2 linked regions of the Homo sapiens genome follow. The protein of the gene in region 1 purifies or fractionates together with the protein of each later gene. This does not show direct contact. Each region holds a gene or a part of one and is shown on either strand. Other genes may lie near its edges.

The links.
Region 2: the proteins of RNFT1 (region 1) and PSMB2 purify together in Homo sapiens (affinity purification with mass spectrometry, with the first as the bait; one large-scale study listed by BioGRID). This does not show direct contact.

Annotation. Positions count from the first base shown.
Region 1 is NC_000017.11:59,954,710-59,958,545, reverse strand, and holds part of RNFT1 (E3 ubiquitin-protein ligase RNFT1), read left to right. Parts: intron 1-101; coding exon 102-255; intron 256-1,163; coding exon 1,164-1,322; intron 1,323-1,992; coding exon 1,993-2,058; intron 2,059-3,836. UniProt on the Homo sapiens protein: E3 ubiquitin-protein ligase that acts in the endoplasmic reticulum (ER)-associated degradation (ERAD) pathway, which targets misfolded proteins that accumulate in the endoplasmic reticulum (ER) for ubiquitination and subsequent proteasome-mediated degradation.
Region 2 is NC_000001.11:35,601,156-35,603,734, reverse strand, and holds part of PSMB2 (proteasome subunit beta type-2), read left to right. Parts: intron 1-360; coding exon 361-468; 3' UTR 469-2,579. UniProt on the Homo sapiens protein: Non-catalytic component of the 20S core proteasome complex involved in the proteolytic degradation of most intracellular proteins. This complex plays numerous essential roles within the cell by associating with different regulatory particles.

The sequences.
Region 1 (3,836 bases):
TTACATATCAAAATAAAATATTTGTAGCAAATTAAAACCCTTTATTAATACTTTATCTTTGTATGTTGCTCTGATAAATTTTGATGTTTTTCTTTTGGTAGCTTAATTTTTTTAAATCCTACTTTGGACCATTTGAGCTTCTGGGAAGTATTTTGGATTGTTGGAATTACAGACTTCATTCTGAAATTCTTTTTCATGGGCTTAAAATGCCTTATTTTATTGGTGCCTTCTTTCATCATGCCTTTTAAATCTAAGGTAAGAAACTCACTTATGCTTTATTGGAGTGATGTTATCGAATCACATTAATGCTATTTAGTCTTTGTTTAAATGAATCCTCCTTTTGCAGTTTTTCAGTTTGCTAACTAGCTTAATTATCTGTATTATTTCAGCTTAGCAACCATTTGTTCAGGCACTTGAACCTGATTATTAACCTATTTGGATAAAATCAGAATTATATTTGCTTCAGAATAATTTTAAAATCAGTCCCCACATCATATGTGGGAAACTATTTAGATGTGTACTTCTGTTCTCCAGGGCATTATCAATTGACAGTTGACTATGTACAATTATTCAGTGGTTTCCCATATGCACTAAAAACTTTTAAATTCTTATAATCAGCAAAAACATACTCACATAGGTTTTACTTGCAGTATACATAAAACATTCTCATTGTATCTTTTTTTTTGGTTTTGTTTTGTTTTGAGATTGTCTCTCGCTCTGTTGCCCAGGCTGGAGTGCAGTGGTGTGATCTTGGCTCACTGCAACCTCCGCCTCCTGGGTTCAGGCAGTTCTCCTGCCTCAGCCTCCTGAGTAGCTGGGATTACAGGTGCCCACCACCACACCCAGTTAATTTTTGTATTTTTAGTAGAGACGGGGTTTCACCATGTTGGCCAGCTGGTCTCGAACTCCTGACCTCAGGTGATCTGCCCATCCCAAAGTGCTGGGAGCCACTGCGTCCAACCTAGAAATTCTTTCAAAGCAGGCCACTCAGTGACTGTAATATGTGAGAACCAGCTTGAGGTTCAGTCATAATCATTATGAAGATTAATTTTATAGTTATTTATATTATTGTATAATATACTCAGTGTTCTCAGTCTAATATTGTTTGTGCTATGTAGTTAAGTAGTTTGGGTAGCTCTATTTGTTTTCTTCTTATTTTTTAGGGTTACTGGTATATGCTTTTAGAAGAATTGTGTCAATACTACCGAACTTTTGTTCCCATACCAGTTTGGTTTCGCTACCTTATAAGCTATGGGGAGTTTGGTAACGTAACTAGATGGAGTCTTGGGATACTGCTGGCTTTACTCTACCTCATATTAAAAGTAGGTAACATTACAAATCTTGTCACTGCATGATTCACATTAATGATTACTGATACATACTACTGTTTTCCTCTTTTAACAGTTTTATAGTTTATCTTCATATCACTAGTTTGAAGTAATAGCAGGTTCTATATTTGTTTAGAAATGGAGAAACGGAAATAGACTATCTTAATCCAGCGGTCCTCAGGTTTCACTGGAGGGAAGGGGAGTCGACCTTCACATAGCGTGGATTATCTAAGTAGGGAAAACAAGTGGAATAGAACATACCCATCCTCAACAGTAACATTGTCATACACATAATTCTTAAACTAGTAGAGTATCTTGTCCTGTTCTCTCCATGCCTGCACCCCTCAACCTAATAATCACTTTATGAAACTTTAAAATCTAAATGTTAAAAACAGGTGAATCAGATAAAATTGCTTTGACTTTGACATAGTTGTATTTGTCTTGATCAAATTGTTACTCTAGGTGTTTAAATGTACTTCAGCTTGCTGAGATGGCTCAAATCTATAAATTGAATAAAATACTCAGCACAAAATGATTAGATGTGACATATAATGAACATTAAGTTAATATGAGGATTTGATGTTATGGGATTTCAGCTTTGGTTTTTGGGTTTAGCAAATAGGACTGTTTGAATTAATAAATGATCTCTTATTTCTCTTTTCAGCTTTTGGAATTTTTTGGGCATCTGAGAACTTTCAGACAGGTTTTACGAATATTTTTTACACAACCAGTAAGTACTTTTTATCAGTTAAGAAAAACACCTTCACCTTTCTTCACTGCAAAAATTTTTTTAGTTCAGCAGTTTTACAAGAATGGATTTCATAAATAGATGATCCTTTTCTTTTACTTTGATTATTTTCTAGTACTTTGGCACTTGGGGCTATAATAATTTAGGAGTTTTATCTCTGTGATCAGATTCTTGAATCACACATTGACAACCACCTGCTAATTGTTGCAGTGCTTATATATTTGAACTTGTCTCTTGCCTCTTCAATCCACTGGACATTTTTAAGGCTTGTAAACCCTTAACAATCTTATGAAATTGTGTTCCTCTTTTTTAATCCACAAATGGGGGCTTTGTTTGTTCCTATTAACTCCTTATTCACCTGTGAAAATCCTTCCATTGTAATTTATTGTTTAGAAAGCTCACTGCCAAAAATCATGTCTCTTGCAGTTTTCTTACTGGAGCAGATTTCCCCATTGCTCAATTATATGTGCATAAATACGTTCATGGCATGAAATTTAACAATTAATTGAGTCTCTGGTGTCATTTATAACATTATTGTGTGATTCTATTGATGTTGCAAATTGCAGTGAAAGGATGTCATAGAGAACCCTAATTTACCACTTAGTAGCCTGAAAGGTTCCTAGTACCTATGTGTGGTCAGCAGACTTCAGGGTTTGATTCTCAATTTTGCAGTCATTTCATCAGGGCCCAAGGAGACTGACTTAAAAGAATGCCAACCGAATAATATACCGTAAAAATAAAAAAAGAATTATGTCTACAAAGTAAACGAGACTAACTGGCCAGGGCCTTTTCCCTAAGATAGAGTTAGCAATGTAGAAACAAACTTTGCTACATCCTATGCAAGCTTGTTTCTCTAGACAAGACATAATAAAATTCAGAGAGTTCAGCTTTGTCCAAGTCAGTTCAACTGATGATTATGTGAGCATCAACCATTTTACTATAATTGGTCTTGTAAGATTTGTGCCGAAATACTCTCAAGAAAATACCCTGATATTCTTTCTCTGAGACAAACTACAGAGAGGATATCAGTCATCAATACTTGGATTTGTTCAAGTCTCCTTTACCAGGGAAATGGCAGTTACTATCTGGAGAGGGAGTCTCCAAGATGCCAGATGAGTAACGTCTTAAAAGCTTGTCAGCATAATTATCTGCAAATGTACTTTGCTAAATGACACCTTACTGAAGGGAAATTGACACCAAGATCATCTAACAGTATCCTGACTTATTTCTGAAATCTTTATTACCAGTTTCAAAAAACCTCAATTTTTAATATCTTTATCCTTTGAGTTTTACTTTGATTTTGATGTTGTTAGCCTGAGACGTTTTAGTACAAGAAGTTTAGATAACTTCAGCTATGTTAAGTCATGCTTTACCCTCATGACCGTGACTGACTTGGGTGTTCTTACATCTCTTTAGTTACCTCTTCCCCATCATTTCTACAGAAAGCAGGTTTCATTTGTAACATTTTGATTTCTCCAAATTTCACTGAGGGTTATTGACATCACATCTAGTTAATGACTAAGTTCTGAATCTGGTGAGGAGGTTAAAATCTTAGAGACGAGTAACTTGTTATTAGGACATTAGAAGAGAAGAAAATTCAAATAATTGCATTTTTGTTCAGTTAGTTTTGACAGTAGTTATTCTACCAAAGCGACATTTACAGTTGCAGTTTCTCCGTAAAACTTTTTTATGTTTAGCACTAAATGCTTTTTATAATTTCGAATAATTTTTAGACCTAGTGGCAGAAAATTCTTCAGTGG
Region 2 (2,579 bases), on another chromosome or scaffold:
AGCTTATTATCTTGAGACATTTTAAGAGAGACGTCTGTGTTTACCAGACTGATGGGTAACAGACTATGGGGAACAGAACACTGGATTGTCTCATTCTTTCGTCAGCTGACTGACCAGAGACAGGCTCTTAGTTGCACCTCCCAGTTCAGCCTCCCTGCCTCCCAGTCATCCTCCAGCTGCTGTTTGGGTACCCTCTACCACTAGAGTACTAGTGCCCTACTGCCAACTGCCTCCAGTAGAATATCAGTTCCACAAAAGCAGGGATTTTTGTTTGCTTGTATCCCCAGTGTCTAGAACAGAGCCTGGCACATAGAACTTAGTAATCATTTGTTGACTGATTTCCTCCATGTCTCTCTGCAGCTCCAGAAACGCTTCATCCTGAATCTGCCAACCTTCAGTGTTCGAATCATTGACAAAAATGGCATCCATGACCTGGATAACATTTCCTTCCCCAAACAGGGCTCCTAACATCATGTCCTCCCTCCCACTTGCCAGGGAACTTTTTTTTGATGGGCTCCTTTATTTTTTTCTACTCTTTTCAGGCGCACTCTTGATAAATGGTTAATTCAGAATAAAGGTGACTATGGATATAATTGAGCCCTCTGGTCCAGGTCTCAGTTTACCTAATATTACCTCAGAAAGGATATGGAGGGAAGATGATCTTTTTGCCAGGTCTGACTTTTCTTCCTGCTCCGCCCTCCATTAACGCTCAGTACCCTTTAGCAGCTGACGGCCCCACGTTCTACTCCATGCTTGGCTTCCTTTCCAACTAGCTCTTTCATATATTTTACTTGCTAGTATCTCCATTCTCTCTAAAGTAGTGGTTCTTTTTGCCCTTAAACTTAAATTTTTAAATTAATTAACCTGAATTAATAATACATGCACTTAATGTAACATGCAAACAGTACAAAAACATGTAGTGAAAAATATTTCTTCCAGAGCTGGGTGTGGTGGCTCATACCTGTAATCCCAGCACTTTGGGAGGCCGAGGCGGGCGGATCACGAGGTCAAGAGAGCGAGACCATCCTGACCAACATGGTAAAACCCCGTCTCTACTAAAAATACAAAAATTAGCTGGGCGTGGTGGCACGCACCCCTAGTCCCAGCTACTGGGGAGGCTGAGACAGGAGAATCGGTCGAACCCGGGAGGCAGAGGTTGCAGTGAGCCTAGATCGCGCCACTGTACTCCAGCCTGGCAACAGAGTGAGACTCCGTCTCAAAAAAAGAAGGAAAAATGTTTCTTCCATCCCTATAATCCAGTCATCTGCTTCCTGCTTCCCTTCCTGGAGGAAACTTCAGCTACTAATTTCTTATGTTTTTTAAGAGATATTCTGTTACTGTGTAAAGTATACATACATACAGACACATGCCCCCTTTAAATTTTTTAGATTTATTTATTTATTTAGAGACAGGGTCTCACTCTAGCCCAGGCTGGAGTGCTGTGGCGTAATCTTGGCTCACTGCAACCTCCGCCTCCCGGGCCCAAGTGATCCTCCCATCTCAGCCTCCTGAGTAGCTAGGATTACAGGCGCACACCACCAATGCCCAGCTAGTTTTTGTGTTTTTCATAGAGACAGGGTCTCACCATGTCATTCAGGTTGGTCTTGAACTCCTGGGCTCAAGCAGTCTGCCTGCCTTGGCTTCCCAGTGCTGGGATTACAGGCGTGAGCCACCGTGCCCGGCTAAAAAGTATTTTTAAGTTCTGCATATTGCTTATTTCACTTAACACTATATTAGAGATTGTTTTATATCAATACATATAGATATGCTTATTCTTGTTGACAGTTGCATAATTTTCCATTAAATTGATGTATCATGGGCAGTTAACCAGTTACTCGTTTTACTCTTAGCATAACTTTAGGGAACAATGTGGATGTTTTGTGGTTAAAGCTATTAAAACAGTGGTTCTTGACCAGATGTGTGTTTCAGAATGTTCATCTCACATTTCCAGTTGCTACTGATGCTGCTGGTCTAGGAACCACATATCAAAACCATTTGGTCTCCGACTAAGATAAACCCTACTTTATCCAATTCTGTGCTCCTCTTAATATCATATACAGATAGGTTTTTGTTTTGTCTGTGATTAAATGTATCATCTAAGATACTACCTACTGATCATAACGTTCATATTAAAGTATTGGGTTAACATTAGATTTGGGTGTCTTATACACTATTTAATACGCCAATGATAAATGCCTTACACCATAAGAAGAAAGCTAATCATTGAGTAAATGGGAGAAAAGAGATGATTCACGTCACTACAGTTGATTCAACCTCCAACACCACCATGAATATGCATAGGTTTGAGCTTTTAGCTAGATTCCTGAGTGTAAGGCATCTATTTTAAAAGTGCCACAGGTTGGCCGGGTGCGGTGGCTCATGCCTGTAATCCCAGCACTTTGGCCGCCCGCCGAGGCGGGCGGATCACCTGAGGTCAGGAGTTCAAGACCAGCCTGGCCAACATGGTGAAACCCCATCTCTACTAAAAAAATATATAACAATTAGCCAGGCGTGGTGGCACACGCCTGTAAACCCAACTACTTGGGAGGCTGAGGCAGGAGAATTGCTTGAGCCCGGGA